Linked DNA regions of Homo sapiens. The protein of the gene in region 4 purifies or fractionates together with the protein of the main gene of each other region. This does not show direct contact. Each region holds a gene or a part of one and is shown on either strand. Other genes may lie near its edges.

The links.
Region 1: the proteins of RETNLB (region 4) and EMILIN2 purify together in Homo sapiens (affinity purification with mass spectrometry; one large-scale study listed by BioGRID and IntAct). This does not show direct contact.
Region 2: the proteins of RETNLB (region 4) and CNTNAP3 purify together in Homo sapiens (affinity purification with mass spectrometry; one large-scale study listed by BioGRID and IntAct). This does not show direct contact.
Region 3: the proteins of RETNLB (region 4) and SULF1 purify together in Homo sapiens (affinity purification with mass spectrometry; one large-scale study listed by BioGRID and IntAct). This does not show direct contact.

The regions. Positions count from the first base shown.
Region 1 is NC_000018.10:2,885,006-2,888,505, reverse strand, and holds part of EMILIN2 (EMILIN-2 precursor), read right to left. Parts: coding exon 3,367-3,500; intron 1-3,366. UniProt on the Homo sapiens protein: May be responsible for anchoring smooth muscle cells to elastic fibers, and may be involved not only in the formation of the elastic fiber, but also in the processes that regulate vessel assembly. Has cell adhesive capacity.
Region 2 is NC_000009.12:39,176,668-39,180,167, forward strand, and holds part of CNTNAP3 (contactin-associated protein-like 3 isoform 1 precursor), read right to left. Parts: intron 1,694-3,500; coding exon 1,490-1,693; intron 836-1,489; coding exon 651-835; intron 1-650.
Region 3 is NC_000008.11:69,625,347-69,628,846, reverse strand, and holds part of SULF1 (extracellular sulfatase Sulf-1 isoform 1 precursor), read right to left. Parts: intron 1,638-3,500; coding exon 1,541-1,637; intron 1,076-1,540; coding exon 981-1,075; intron 677-980; coding exon 611-676; intron 1-610. UniProt on the Homo sapiens protein: Exhibits arylsulfatase activity and highly specific endoglucosamine-6-sulfatase activity. It can remove sulfate from the C-6 position of glucosamine within specific subregions of intact heparin.
Region 4 is NC_000003.12:108,755,138-108,758,746, forward strand, and holds RETNLB (resistin-like beta isoform 1 precursor), read right to left. Parts: upstream 2,274-3,609; 5' UTR 2,049-2,273; coding exon 1,922-2,048; intron 1,452-1,921; coding exon 1,371-1,451; intron 769-1,370; coding exon 641-768; 3' UTR 501-640; downstream 1-500. UniProt on the Homo sapiens protein: Probable hormone.

The DNA.
Region 1 (3,500 bases), on a different chromosome or scaffold from region 4:
CTGACCTTGTGATCCACCCGCCTCGGCCTCCCAAAGTGCTGGGATTACAGACGTGAGCCACCGCGCCCGGCCGTTATTCTCTCTTAAGACACTAAAGAAAAAAACAAGTTACTGAATCATGTGCAAGTGGAATGCTATTCTAAGCAAAGGAAATAAAAACAAAGGGCGGCAAAGGGGGGAAGATTGAGGATGTAAGGAAATGCTTTGCTCATATACCACGGTGACTGTGCAAATTGCATTTTTTTCAAAGGATAATTTGGCAACATGTATCAAAATACTCAGAATCTTTTGACCCTACAATTACACTTCAAGAAATTTATTCTAGTGAATAATCAGAAATGAGTGCAAAAATTTAACAGGAAAAGATGCATATTCATATATTATCTATAATAGTGAAAAATTACAAACAACCTAAGTGACCAACAGTAGAGGATGGTGTTCAATAACTCACATTCTCTCAAGCCATTAAGTAGTATTGTAGAATATTTCATGACATGGAAGGTTGTCCATTATAGGTTATTCAATAAAAAATAAGTTCCAGGTCGAGTGCAGTGGTTCTGCCTGTAACCCCAGCACTTTGGGATGCTGAGGTGGGAGGATCACTTGAGTCCAGGAGTCCAAGGTTGTGAGCAGTAATCATGCCACTACACTCCAGCCTGGGTTACAGAGCAAGACCCTGTCTCTAAAATAGAAAAAGTTGTAAAAATAGTATTTTTTTTATAATGACAGTGAATTCAGGGTATGTTTGTCCATTCTGTATTGAAATAAAGGAATATCTGAGACTGGGTAATTTGTGAAGAAAAGAGGTTTATTTGGCTCACAGTTTTGTAGGCTGTACAAGAAACATGGTGTCAGCAACTGCTTCTGGTCAGGACCTCAGGAAGCTTCTACTCATGACGGAAGGTGAAAAGAGGGCCAGTGTGTCACATGGTAAGAGAGGGAGCGAGAGGGAGCAAGAGGGAAGGGAGAAGGTGCCAGGCTCTTCCAACCAACCAGCTCTCGTGTACTAACAGAGCAAGAACTCATTTATTACCGCAAGGAGGGTACCAAGCCATTCATGAAGGATCAACCTCCATGACCCAAACACCTCCCATGATACCCCATCTCCCACATTGAAGATCACATTGCAACATGAGATTTGGAGGGGACAAACATTCAAACTATATCAGAGGAAAAGCATTTCTTTTTACTCCTTCCTAAAATCCCACTAAAAGGACAAAATAAAAGGAGGAGGGAGACAAAAAAACCTACTCAAGTCACACACAAAAAACTGGGAGTCAGAAAAGTTTTGGTGTTTTTTTAGCAGCAATATTGGAAGCTAGAGAAAAACTGAGCACTATTGTCAAAATTCTGAAGGAAAGTGATTTCTGACCTAGATTTCTGAAGCTAGAATAAAAAATAGTGTTCATACTATAAAGTGGTAAAAAGTTTGCTTCCCATGTAATTGTCTCATGAAGCTACTAAAGGACATGCTCAAGCAAAGCAAGGGGCTAAGCCAAGAAAGAGGGAGCAGGGGACACAGGAAACAGGGAATTCAACAGGAGAGGGGCAAGTTAAGATCCTCGGGTGAAGACAGGAAAAGAGGATGTCCCGTCCAGGTAGGGCAAGTGAGAAGGCTCAAGGGAGACTTCTTCAAGAAGATGAAAATGCTGTGTCTGAACATATGGAGGGGACATTTAGAGAGCCAGAGAAGAGTTGGGTTGAAATAGCAATAAAAAGAGAGAAAACTAAGCAAAGGAAAAACATAAGACAATGATTTAACTGTAAGGAATCAAAAAGCTGCGTAGGAAAGAAAATCTATTCATAGTACACCACATGGCTCAGCTGTAAACATTATCTACATAGTTACTACAATGTAAACACTGAATACTGAGTAAATAAAGAATATGGTCTAACTGTATGGAAGGGATGGGGGGATAGGAGCCATGTGTTGAGGAGTGGATGAAAGGGAGTTAAATTCTCACCTTCCATAATGAAAAACCAATAGATATGGAGGTAAATTCCAAAAGATTCATCTGAAGAGTTTAAAGTACTACCCATGGGAAGGGAAAATGAGAAAAAGGGTTTCAGGGTGGTCATTGTTTTTCCTATTAGTCCTTATAAAGCTATTCAACTTATTAAACTACAATATGCTTAAACTTCTGTCAAACAAAAACTAAAATGAAACAAAACAAAAATAAATGATTACAATCCACCAGCCCCCATGTCATGTTCCCTCCATCCCAGTATCTGTCATGAATTATTGTAATTACTCTCTAATGTCTGCCTTCCATGAAGTCAGGGACTCTGTCTGCCTTTTTTCTCACTTATTCCAAGTACCCAGTATAGAGCCTGACAGATATAGAAGTTCAATAAATATTTGTGAGATAAATGAATTTTTCTTTAACAAAATCAATGTACAGACATAGGAAAGAGAGTAAGGTTCTATAACAAAATGTCAACAGTAGTTCTCATTTAGTCATGAGATTATGTATCCTTAAATATTTTTCAAACATTCTTTAATTGATGTGCATTACTTTTGTAGTTAAAAAGTCATTTTAAAATCTATTTTTACAGACAATGTTGGGAAGAACTACGAGTTTCAAACCTGAGAACACCTCATGGCAAAATATAATCATTTAAGCATCTAATTTCATAAGAAAACCTAGGCTGCATTTATTGTGACTGAACTTAAAAAGATGAAGTGATGGCCAGGCACAGTGGCTCACGCCTGTAATCCCAGCACTTTGGGAGGCCGAGGTGGGCAGATCACTTGAGGTCAGGAGTTGGAGACCAGCCTGGCCAACATGGTGAAACCCCATCTCTACCAAAAGTACAAAAATCAGCCGGGCATGGTGGCAGGCGCCTGTAATCCCAGCTACTCGGAGGCCAAGGCAGGAGAATTGCTTGAACCAGGTAGGCAGAGGTTGCAGTGAACCGAGATTGCGCCACTGCACTCCAGCCTGGGCGACAGAGCGAGACTCCATCTCAAAAAAATAAAAAATAAAAAACAATTTTAACCCCCCTAAATTCAGATGTATGGGCCCAAGTAAAAACAAACAGTACATCATTACATCTGAATCTCTTCACAGCTGTGCCTCCAGGTGACACAAGTCTGAACCCACTGGCATTTCCTACCCTGATGTTTAAGGCATTGGCTTTCACAACAAGCTGGCCCTAGCAAAGCAATTTACTTGCAAGGAAGTTTGTCTTACAATTGCTACTGCTCCTGAGAATAAATTTGTCACATGTGGCTACTGCAGGTATCTATGTGTGTTATTCGAAGGCCATTCAAAGCTCACCATTGTAAAGCACAAATCCTGTTGTTTGAAGGAGCACCGGAAATATTAAAGGTGGCCATACATAATAGCACAAATAAGAAGTTACCTGTGGCTTTCTTCAAGCTGTTTCGAGGCCGAGCCGGCGTGGGGCGGAGGGTCTTCACGGGGTCTTTGGGACCTTCTTGGCAATCTCCCCCTCTAAAGCCAGGACAGCACCTCCATTCCAACTGTGTCACTGTC
Region 2 (3,500 bases), on a different chromosome or scaffold from region 4:
CTTACGCCAGTAAATATCACAGTTTTTCTGGTTTGTTATGATCCTTCATACACTTTAAGGTGTCCTGTAAAGGACTGAAAGAATAGATGCTATTTAACAGTGTAGCTTAGATACATATGGGCAATGGGTTGCAAAAAGCATTAATGACTTAAAAAATATCAGGATATTATTTATATGTGAGCATCTGACTTTTCTTGTTATTTAATAAATCTATTGGTGTATATCTTGTTAACTTCTCAAAGTGATCCTAAATAATGCTATGTTGGTTAGGATTGCACCAAGACAAGAAAAAAAATCCCCCAGGAATCTGCATAGTCAAACAACAAGTGTAATATACCAGATGAAATTTCAAATGAAATATATTCAAATGAGTACATTTAATAACAATGCTTGCTACTTTGGTATTTCTGCATTTGTGGATTTCCTAAACCTAACACTGACTGTTTACTTCTTTCCAAGGTGGAAAAGATGATCTATTATAATAAACTGACCTATTAGAAGGCATAAACAGTTTCATAGTACCGGGACAGACATACCATACCTATTACTATTAGTCAACTTAGTTATGAATTACTATAAAATGGCATTTCTCTATGCAGCTACCTTATTTTTCAGGTTATATTTAATTTAAACTATATATCTATAATAACCTCAAAATTAAGATCCAAGTAACTGGAATCTCCCTTTGCTTGGAAATGATGAGTGTGTTTGTCCACGGTGAAGTTGACCTGCGTGTCGAGGAGCTCGATGAGGACGGAATGCCAGTGCTGGTCGTCCAGCAGGCTGCCCAGGGTGAGGGTCACAGGAGCAATAGTGGAAGGCAGCTTAGCATTGCCTTAAAGGAGAAGGAAAAAAACAGTTATTTCTGTTCAAAATCACAGCTTCCCTTTTTTAGTTGAGCATCACAGTTTGCATCCAACTTTCCATCTTACAGAGTTGTTTTCTCACTTTCTCCCTATCTTGAACACAATAACCTTACCCTGTTTTTATTTTTTTTAAGTTCAATTCTACACTTTGTTGAAATTTTTCTTAGTATTTTTTCTATTACTCATGACATTTGGATTTACAATGCAAATATTTTCTTTCTTAGAACCTCATTATCAGCATTATCTCATAATTTTATAATGATGTATTGTCTTTATGATATGGATAATCATATATTACATATATATTATACACACATATGGTGATCTTGCACAGTTTGTCAAAATATATGCTGTTTACAGAAATCATACTTAGGATATGTATGTATTGCATGCATCTGGTAGTAATGCTCTTAAATTTTCATTTACATTTGTTCATTGCAGTTCTACTTTGCACTTACTGTCCCAGAGTAACTATCACTTGTGTATTTTTTATTTCTTAAAGGTGTTCTGGTTTAGATGATGAATTATATGGTCATTTTATCTAACTGTGAAAAGACTGAGTACCAACAAATGTAAACAGATTTTTTTTAACTACTGGTATAAAAGTTCAAGTATTTTTTTACCTGAATTAAGAAAAAAGACAAGCTTTCCTTTAATTAATTCCAGAGTAATGTGATTTCCATGTTGTCCTTCTCTGTGAAGTAGAATTCCATTGCTCTGCATGGCTTTAAATTTCAAAGAAATAACGTCTCTTATTGGTTTTAAAGGTTTTTTATCAAGTCTATACAGCAGAGCACTTTGTCCATCAAAATAAACCACCTCAGATTCTAGGAAAGAAGATATTAGAAAGCAATTCTAAATATAAATATGTCATACAGTAGCACATTGAAAATGTGTGCATCAATATGCCACACCACACACACATAGACACACATTGTATTTCTAAGCCATTCATTGAAGGAAACAACTGACAATAATATATTTTCTGGTGGCATCATGAGTTGATATATGTAATACCCACCGTTAGAATTTTCTAACATTTTCTCAAACTTCATCATCTAGAAATGCTTTTATTAATCTACTCCCAATGGCTCTTATCTTTAGAGCAGCCCATTTCTTCTCATTCTGTTTGATTAAAAACAATCAGGAAAGAAGCTGTATTTCACTACATAAATTATTTATTTTAAGGTCATTCTTATATTAAATATCAGTGTCACTCAATTTAAATACCTTTGTTCATTCCCAGTAGCTTTGGCTTCTCTTGATTCTTACACATGTACCTACTTTACTAAAGATTTTGTCTGTAAAGATACAGAAACACATATCATACTTATTAAATACTGCTTTAGACATGTAATAAATGTATTTTAAATGAGCTGACATGTAATATTTTTCTCAACCCTCGGCTAATGGTACTGCTAATGGGCACTGCAATGTGTCAACTTGGCTAGGCCATGGTAAACAGCTTTTGGTCAAACACTAGTCTTGATGTTGCAGTGCAGGTATTTTTTAGAGGTAATCAATATTAAATCAGTAAACATTGAGTAAAGCAGGTTAAACTCTATAACGTGGGTGAGCCTCATCCAATCAGTTGAAGGCTGTAAGAGAAAGAAAGAAAACTGAAGTTCTCTAGGAAAGAAGGAATTTTGCCTCCAGACAACCTCTGGACTCCAGCTGCAATATCACCTCTTACCTAGGACTTGCCAGTCCTTACAATCAGGTAAGCCAATTCCTTAAAACTCTCTCTCTCTCTACACACACACACACACACACACACACACACACACACACACACACACACACACACAGGCACACAGACATCCTATTGGTTCTGTTTCTCTGGAGAGCCCTGTCTGACAAAGGCACAGAGGTTTTGTTTTCTTGGATGCTTTGTTGAGAGAGCATGGCCTTAACACCTCTGTTTTGGTTCTTCCTGCTGTAGCTTGTCAGAACTCCAATGCTGCCACACTCTCTCAGCACTCTGTCAGGGTCTTATAAATTCACTATAAATGTCACATATGTTCAGCTCATCAAAAAACAAGTTGTTTCATTTTATCAGTAATATAAAATAATATTTGATAATATTTGTCAAAATCACATGAAGAAATTAATATTACCCAGAAAATCTCTTCTTTTTAAAAGTAAAAAGAAAAATAAGCAATTGTCCTTTGAAAAATATATTTATTTAATAAATGAAGATGCATGAAAACCTAGTGAAATATGAAACTATTTGAAGCTGACTAGCTGATGTCATTCAAGCCAATAAGATGGCATTGTTTAATTATATTTAATTTCACAAAAATATTACTAGTACTTTTTGCATGGCTATCCATTTCATTCACATTATCTGAAATACATATAATAAACTGCACTTCAAAAGTTCTCCATTTTATGTATCATTTTAAAATTTAGAAGTTTGATTTTCTCACATTGGGTTAATGTACTTACAAGGAATTAATGTATCAAGTGCATGATGAATAAACACATTCTGAGTAAAATATGTGTAAATTAAACAATTATTCCTTGTTACATAACTTATTATATGTTCATGATAAAAACAAAACTCTCTGTCAAATGTAAATGAAGACATCTAAGATTATTATTACCTGGCCATGAACTAAGGGAAACCTGAAA
Region 3 (3,500 bases), on a different chromosome or scaffold from region 4:
AGCCATCGAGTTAAAGGTTAGTTGAATCAGATGGCTTGGATTAAAAAGTTTAAAAAATTCTTTGACAAATTCTACTAAACAAGTTTAGATAGCCTTTATTTTTTAGAATTATTTTTTATTATTTTGTTTTTTATATATAAAAGGCTTAAACTTTGTTGAAGTTTAAATACTAAATCTCCTTCACATGCAAATTTTGCTATTATTTAAAAAAATTTATATTTCTTCCCACTTTCAGAATTCAGCACTATTCCAGGCTGCTCTGTAGAACACCAACTGCATCGAGAGAGTCTGTAACCCTCAAGCACTCTCCACAGAAAGCAGTGCATGGAGTAAAATCTAGTTACTGGTCCCATCTGCCAGGTAGGGAGCACCCACAGAATGACAGTGGAGTTCAGCAAGCCTCCCCAACAAAGGATGCCAAGAGCATTGCCACGGTCCCTTGGTGAGGTGGGGCTTTGCTTTCAACTTCATGAGCTAGGTGCCCTCCTAGATGGATCTACTTCTTCTGAAGCGGCACTGCAGGAAACACAGGGGTCCCTCCAGCCTCTTCGAAGGGCCAGGTGGACAGTCATTGACTCCCAGCAAATGTGGAAAACAGAGAGTTACTTACTTGAATGGGTGAAGATGGCTCTTTAATTTCTCTTGCTTTTTTACACCTTTCTCTTTATTGTAATAGCTGCAGGAGAGAAGATTAAAAAGTGAGACTTCATAGCCTTGCATTGGATCAAAGTGTTCATTTTATAAAAAGAAAGCAAAATAGAAAGAAGGAAGGCAGTGATGTTGTAAGTATTTTAGCTGAATGTGACTTTTTACTTTCTGCTTAAGTTTAAGCATATTTAGTTTTACTTAAATAGCTTAGGTTATCGTACTCTATGACAATACATTCTATAGGTAAGAGAGAAAAATGAGCCCAGTGCTAATGCCTCTGGCTTGTGCGGAAATGAATTTGGAAAGTGGAGCATGGATGGAAACAAGCTCACCTTTGTTTACTGCAGCTACATTCCTCAGGCTTCCTTCTCTTCAGATGTCCTCTCACTTCTCTTAAATTCTTAATTTTATCTTGCAGAGCTTCAATCTGGAAAACATGTTTTCAAGCACTTACGTATTAAGATCAGGATTTTCTTTACAAAGTACTTTTCTTTTCACCTTGTTTTCTCTGTTCTGTAATAACAGCTATTCATCTGAGATGATACTTAACATAGAAACAAACTGGGCATAGAATATGTCTATATAGACTCTATATTCCAACCCATGTGTTATAGATAAACATTAGCAGATTCCTCTTTTATAACTGAATCATTTTCTCACAGAGATTTCAAAAGACCATTGAGTCAGTTCCCAGTCTCTTCTCATACTCTATATTGTTTTCAGTAGGACTATCATTAAATCACTGGAGAAAGACAAATAACTTTTTTTTTTTGTATTTTTTCACATAATTATAGATGATGTGTATCTGTGGTATGTCCCACCAGACACAGCAGGGCTGGCAGGCCGAGTTTGAGTTTGGAATATATCTGACAGTCACATAGCCATGGCTAACCTCTTTGTCAATGTATGCCTTATGGTCCTTCCACGCTCTGGCCGATTGGTACAGTTCTCTCTCACAATGGATAGAGTCATTGGGAAGAATAAAACACCTGCAAAACAAACCAAAACCATGTGAAATAGGTTTATATTCTAATAGCAGAAAACACTAAAGATAACAAAGAGAAATTTTAATCCTCAAAATCCTTAATGTTGATACATGCAGTAACCGTTGAGCTGATCCAAGACCAGCATCAATGGGAATATTGAGAGGTGACAGCGTGCTGGCAGTCGTGACAGCGTGCTGGCAGTCCTCACAGCCCTCGCTCGCTCTCCGCGCCTCCTCTGCGTAGGCTCCCACTTTGGCGGCACTTGAGGAGCCCTTCGGCCCGCTGCTGCACTGTGGGAGCCCCTTTCTGAGCTGGCCAAGGCCAGTGCCGGCTCCCTCAGCTTGCAGGGAGGTGTGGAGGGAGAGGCGCGAATGGGAACCGGGGCTGCCTGCGGTGCTTGCGGGCCAGCTGGAGTTCCGGATGGGCGTGGGCTTGGCTGGCCCCACACTCGCAGAGGCCGGCCGGCCCTTGCGGCCCCGGGCAGTGAGGGGCTTAGCACCCGGGCCAGCGGCTGCGGAGGTACCAGCAGTACCAGCCCACCGGCGCTGCGCTCGATTTCTCACCGGGCCTTAGCTGCCTTCCCGCAGGGCAGGCCTCGGGACTGCAGCCCGCCATGCCTGAGCCTCCCACCCACTCCATGGGCTCCTGTGCAGCCCGAGCCTCCCCGACGAGCACCACCCCCTGCTCTATGGCTCCCAGTCCCATCGACCACCCAAGGGCTGAGGAGTGCGAGCGCATGGCGCGGGACTGGCAGACGGCTCCACCTGCAGCCCCTGTGCGGGATCCACTAAGTGAAGCCAGCTGGGCTCCTGAGTCTGGTGGGGACGTGGAGTCTTTATGTCTAGCTCAGGGATTGTAAACACACCAATCAGCATCCTGTGTTTAGCTCAAGGTTTGTGAGTGCACCAATTGACACTCTGTATGTAGCTGCTCTGGTGGGGCCTCGGAGAACCTTTATGTCTAGCTCAGGGATTGTAAACACACCAATCAGCACCCTGTGTTTAGTTCAAGGTTTGTGACTGCACCAATCGACACTGTATCTAGCTGCTCTGGTGGGGCCTTGGAGAACCTTTATGTCTAGCTCAGGGATTGTGAATACACCATTTGACACTGTATCTAGCTCAAGGTTTGTAAACACACCAATCAGCACCCTGTGTTTAGCTCAAGGTTTGCGAATGCACCAATCGACACTCTGTATCTAGCTGCTCTGGTGGGGCCTTGGAGAACCTGTGTGTCAAAACTCTGTAACTAACTAATCTGATGGGGAAGTGGAGAACCTTTGTATCTAGCTCAGGGATTGTAAATGCACCAATCAGCACCCTGTCAAAACAGGCCACTCCGCTCTACCAATCAGCAGGATGTGGGTGGGGCCAGATAAGAGAATAAAAGCAGGCTGCCGGAGCCAGCAGTGGCAATCTGCCTGGGTCCCCTTCCACACTGTGGAAGCTCCGTTCTTTCGCTCTTTGCAATAAATCTTGCTACTGCTCACTCTTTGGGTCCACGCCGCTTTTATGAGCTGTAACACTCACCGCGAAGATCTGTAGCTTCACTCCTGAGCCCAGCGAGACCACGAGCCCACTGGGAGGAACGAACAACTCCAGACGCGCTGCCTTAAGAGCTGTAACACTCACGCGAAGGTCTGCAGCTTCACTGCTGAGCCAGCGAGACCACGAACCCACCAGAAGGAAGAAACTCCGAACACATCTGAACATCAGAAGGGACAGACTCCAGATGCGCCACCTTAAGAGCTGTAACACTCACCACGAGGGTCCGCAGCCTCATTCTTGAAGTCAGTGAGACCAAGAACCCACCAATTCTGGACACAATAGGTTCTAGCCACCAGTGAGGACAAAATGTCACATGGGT
Region 4 (3,609 bases):
CATTCTCAGTAAACTATCGCAAGAACAAAAAACCAAACACCGCATATTCTCACTCATAGGTGGGAATTGAACAATGAGATCACGTGGACACAGGAAGGGGAATATCACACTCTGGGGACTGTGGTGGGGTCGGGGGATGGGGGAGGGATAGCATTGGGAGATATACCTAATGCTAGATGACACGTTAGTGGGTGCAGCGCACCAGCATGGCACATGTATACATATGTAACTAACCTGCACAATGTGCACATGTACCCTAAAACTTAGAGTATAATAAAAAAAAAAAAAATGAAAAAAAAGAAAAAAATAAATAAATAAATAAATAAAAATGAGGGAAGTGGGGGTTTGGAGTGTCAGTTTGTTTTTCCCATTCTTCCCATATCTTTCCTAACTTCCCATCCCACTTCCCAAACTGAGATGTCACCACTGGGACACTGACAACATTTTCTGGATAGGGGAGCCCCAAGCTGGGGACAATAACAGAGATGACATAAGCACAGAGAGGTACAAAGTTTGTCTTTATTACCCAAGAATCAGGAATGGAACAAATGAAGTGGGACGTTTGAGTTAGATTTCTTGGTTGGGACCCTGGTTTCATTACTGTCATGGTCACAAAACTGAGTTCTCAGCCTCCTCCCTGTCAGGTCAGGTGGCAGCAGCGGGCAGTGGTCCAGTCCACCACACTGCACTGGCAGTGGCAGGTGGTTTCCAGCTGAACATCCCACGAACCACAGCCATAGCCACAAGCACAGCCAGTGACAGCCATCCCTGCATGAGCACATGAAGCACAGACATCAGAGCTCTTGGAATTTAAGAGGAGGAAGGGCTACCCACAACCATCTTTCAACCCTGTGCAGTCAGGGGTAGAGCTAGGTTTCGTGGGGCCTCAAGCTCATTCAATTTTGCGAGCTCATTTCAAGAAAAGAAATACAGAAATCACAGAAACAAATATTTGCTGCCATGAAAGAGACTCATGCAAGTGAGAGACTTGGAACTTGGGAGTTTCAGTTTTCTTCGATTTGTGATAAATTCACCTCTCTGTTGGCCCCTACCCATCAAAACAGAGGAATAGATTGGAAAGAGAAATGAAGTATGTGATCATTATGGGACAATGGAGGAGAGGAAGGGCTGAGAAACAGGGGCATGAAGTGAAGGGGTGAAAGGAAGAGGCAGAAGCCCAAGATCCCCCAGTAGCATCCTTCAGGGAAACAAGAATGGGCAAGGGGTCTCTGGGAACCAAGAGTCATGACTCAGCCCCAGGGTGCCAGGGTGATACAGACCTGACATGGGGGAAGACGTAGGTGCAGGGAGATGGACAGGGGAGGATACAGGGCATCGTAGTCGCCATTCCCTCTCAGGGAGTTACTCACCAGCAGGGCAGGAGGACGGTCTGCCTTGGCTTTTGACACTAGCACACGAGAGCTTCTTGCTTATAGGAGAGGGACTGTACTCTGAGTAGGAAAGAAGAAAGGGTACATCCCATGAGCTATCCTCCCCATAATCCCCTTATCCCCTTCCAAATTGTCTTCTACCTTGGAGGTGACACTGTGTCCAGAATCAGCCTACTCATCAGCTTTTAAGGTTAGTTTCCTCATTTTTAAAGCAGAAGTAATAGTTGTCCTTACCTCATAAAATGGTTGTGGGAATTAAATGAAATAATCTACGTAAAACTTGGATTATACCTGGTTCATAATGAGTGTTCATAAATTACAGCTACCATTCTCCTCCACCTCTTCCTCCTCATCAGGAAAACCTCAGCTTTTAGCCAAGACTTCAAACACGGGTAGGGTAGTGTAGAAAGCCCTCATCAGGGGTTGGGCTTGGTTGGGATCTTGGGATGGGATAGAGACAAAGCTAGAGTTTAAGAACAGGAGAAATGAGCAAGGGTCAACCCCCCGCTTCCCCTACCCCAGTCAGTTACCTAGACTGTTGAGAACATCCTTGATCTTCTTATCCATAACGGAGTCTAAGGAACACTGAGTACTCCCCGGGTTGATCAGCTGGAGAAGGGGGATTAGGATGAGAAGGAGGCAAGAGGACGGCCCCATCCTGTACAGAGTCAGTGTCCTGGGGCTGGGAGAAAAGATGGAAAGCAGCTTAGATCTCTGAGCTCCTGGGTGGTGGTGAAGGAAAGAAGACAACGTGGTTAGTTTCCAGGGAGTAAAGATGGAAGAACAGCGTCATCAGTACTGGATCTCTTTAGGCAGTTTGGAGAAGCAGGTAGGGTTGCTGAAGAACAGATTTATTCACCAAAACATTCAGAGAAGGTCTACAAGGACTAGCCAGGCAAGGGCGTTTTAATACACCTGGTATTAACCTGGGCACCTTTAACATACAAGCACACACAAACATGTAAACACACTCCCAGCACACTTTCAAAGACCTGTGCCAGCTAGGGTAACAGGTGACTGTGATAAACTTTGGAGTGTTCATGAGAAGCAACAGCTGCCTTTGCTCTGGATCTCTGCCAAGGGAGTCCTCCTGCCTTTTTGTTCTCCTTCTCCTTTCTTCTTGGCAACCCGATAAGGCTAGCACCTGGGCCTTCTGTGGTCTGCCGGTATTATAGGCTTCTTGTTTGATCCTTCATCAGGAAGAGGTTACTTTGCAGTTAACAAACAAATTAATCCACCCATCATCTATCCCAAACCCAAGTGTATGCTCTTTCTTATCTCTGTTGGCTGAGGGAGGGCCCTACTTGTCACCTGTTCAGACACCATTTTATTGTCCCTGGCCAATCTCATTTGGAGGAAAGTCACAGAAAGACTAATTAATCCTGGATTAAAAATAAGGAAGTTCAGTATTTACTTAACTAGAAGCATGGTTTATGATTCCAGAGTTCTTTTGGGGGCTCATAAAGTTTCCCTTTTTCCCCCACCATTCTCAGCTAATCTTTCGATCTTGTCTCCTCATGGTCACAAGGTAGAAGGTGCCACATCCTCAGCCCAGACCCTGAGCAGGAAGGAAGGAGTGGGGCAAGGCCACTTTCTGTAGGGGCTTTACCTTTTTATTTTAAGAGCAAGATCTTTCTCTAGAAGCTCAAGAAGATTTCCCCTTACATTCCACTGTTTGGTTCTGGGTCACACAACCTCCCTTTCTATCAGCTATGGCTGAAAAAGAGAGCTGGGCTTCACAATTCCTTATCCAAGACCTGGGGCCCAGGTATGTTTCAGAACTCAGAATGTTTCAGATTATGGAAGGTGCAAATTCTGTATATTATGTTAAACCACCAAGGAGGTTGGGGGCAGCACTCTGCAGTCTAATGCATAAATAGCCTGATGCAAAATGTATGAATATTAATGTGGGATAAATAAAAGACCATAAAGAGCCTCACACCAGGCCATGCCAAGTTTTTCTGCCAAATGAGTTAGCCTCAAATTTAGGACAGAACATTTTCATCTTTAGAGCCTTTTAGATTTTAGAATAATGGATAAGGGATTGAGGACTTTGAGGATTCACATATGGCCAAGAGGAATGAGGATGCCATGATTCCTCATCTAGGATGGGGCATGTGGCCACCATGAATAAATAAAATTTAAAGAAGTGCAGATGAAGAAGCAGAGAAAGGGGCCATGTGTTGTGGCTCATGCCCATAATTCCAATACTTTGATA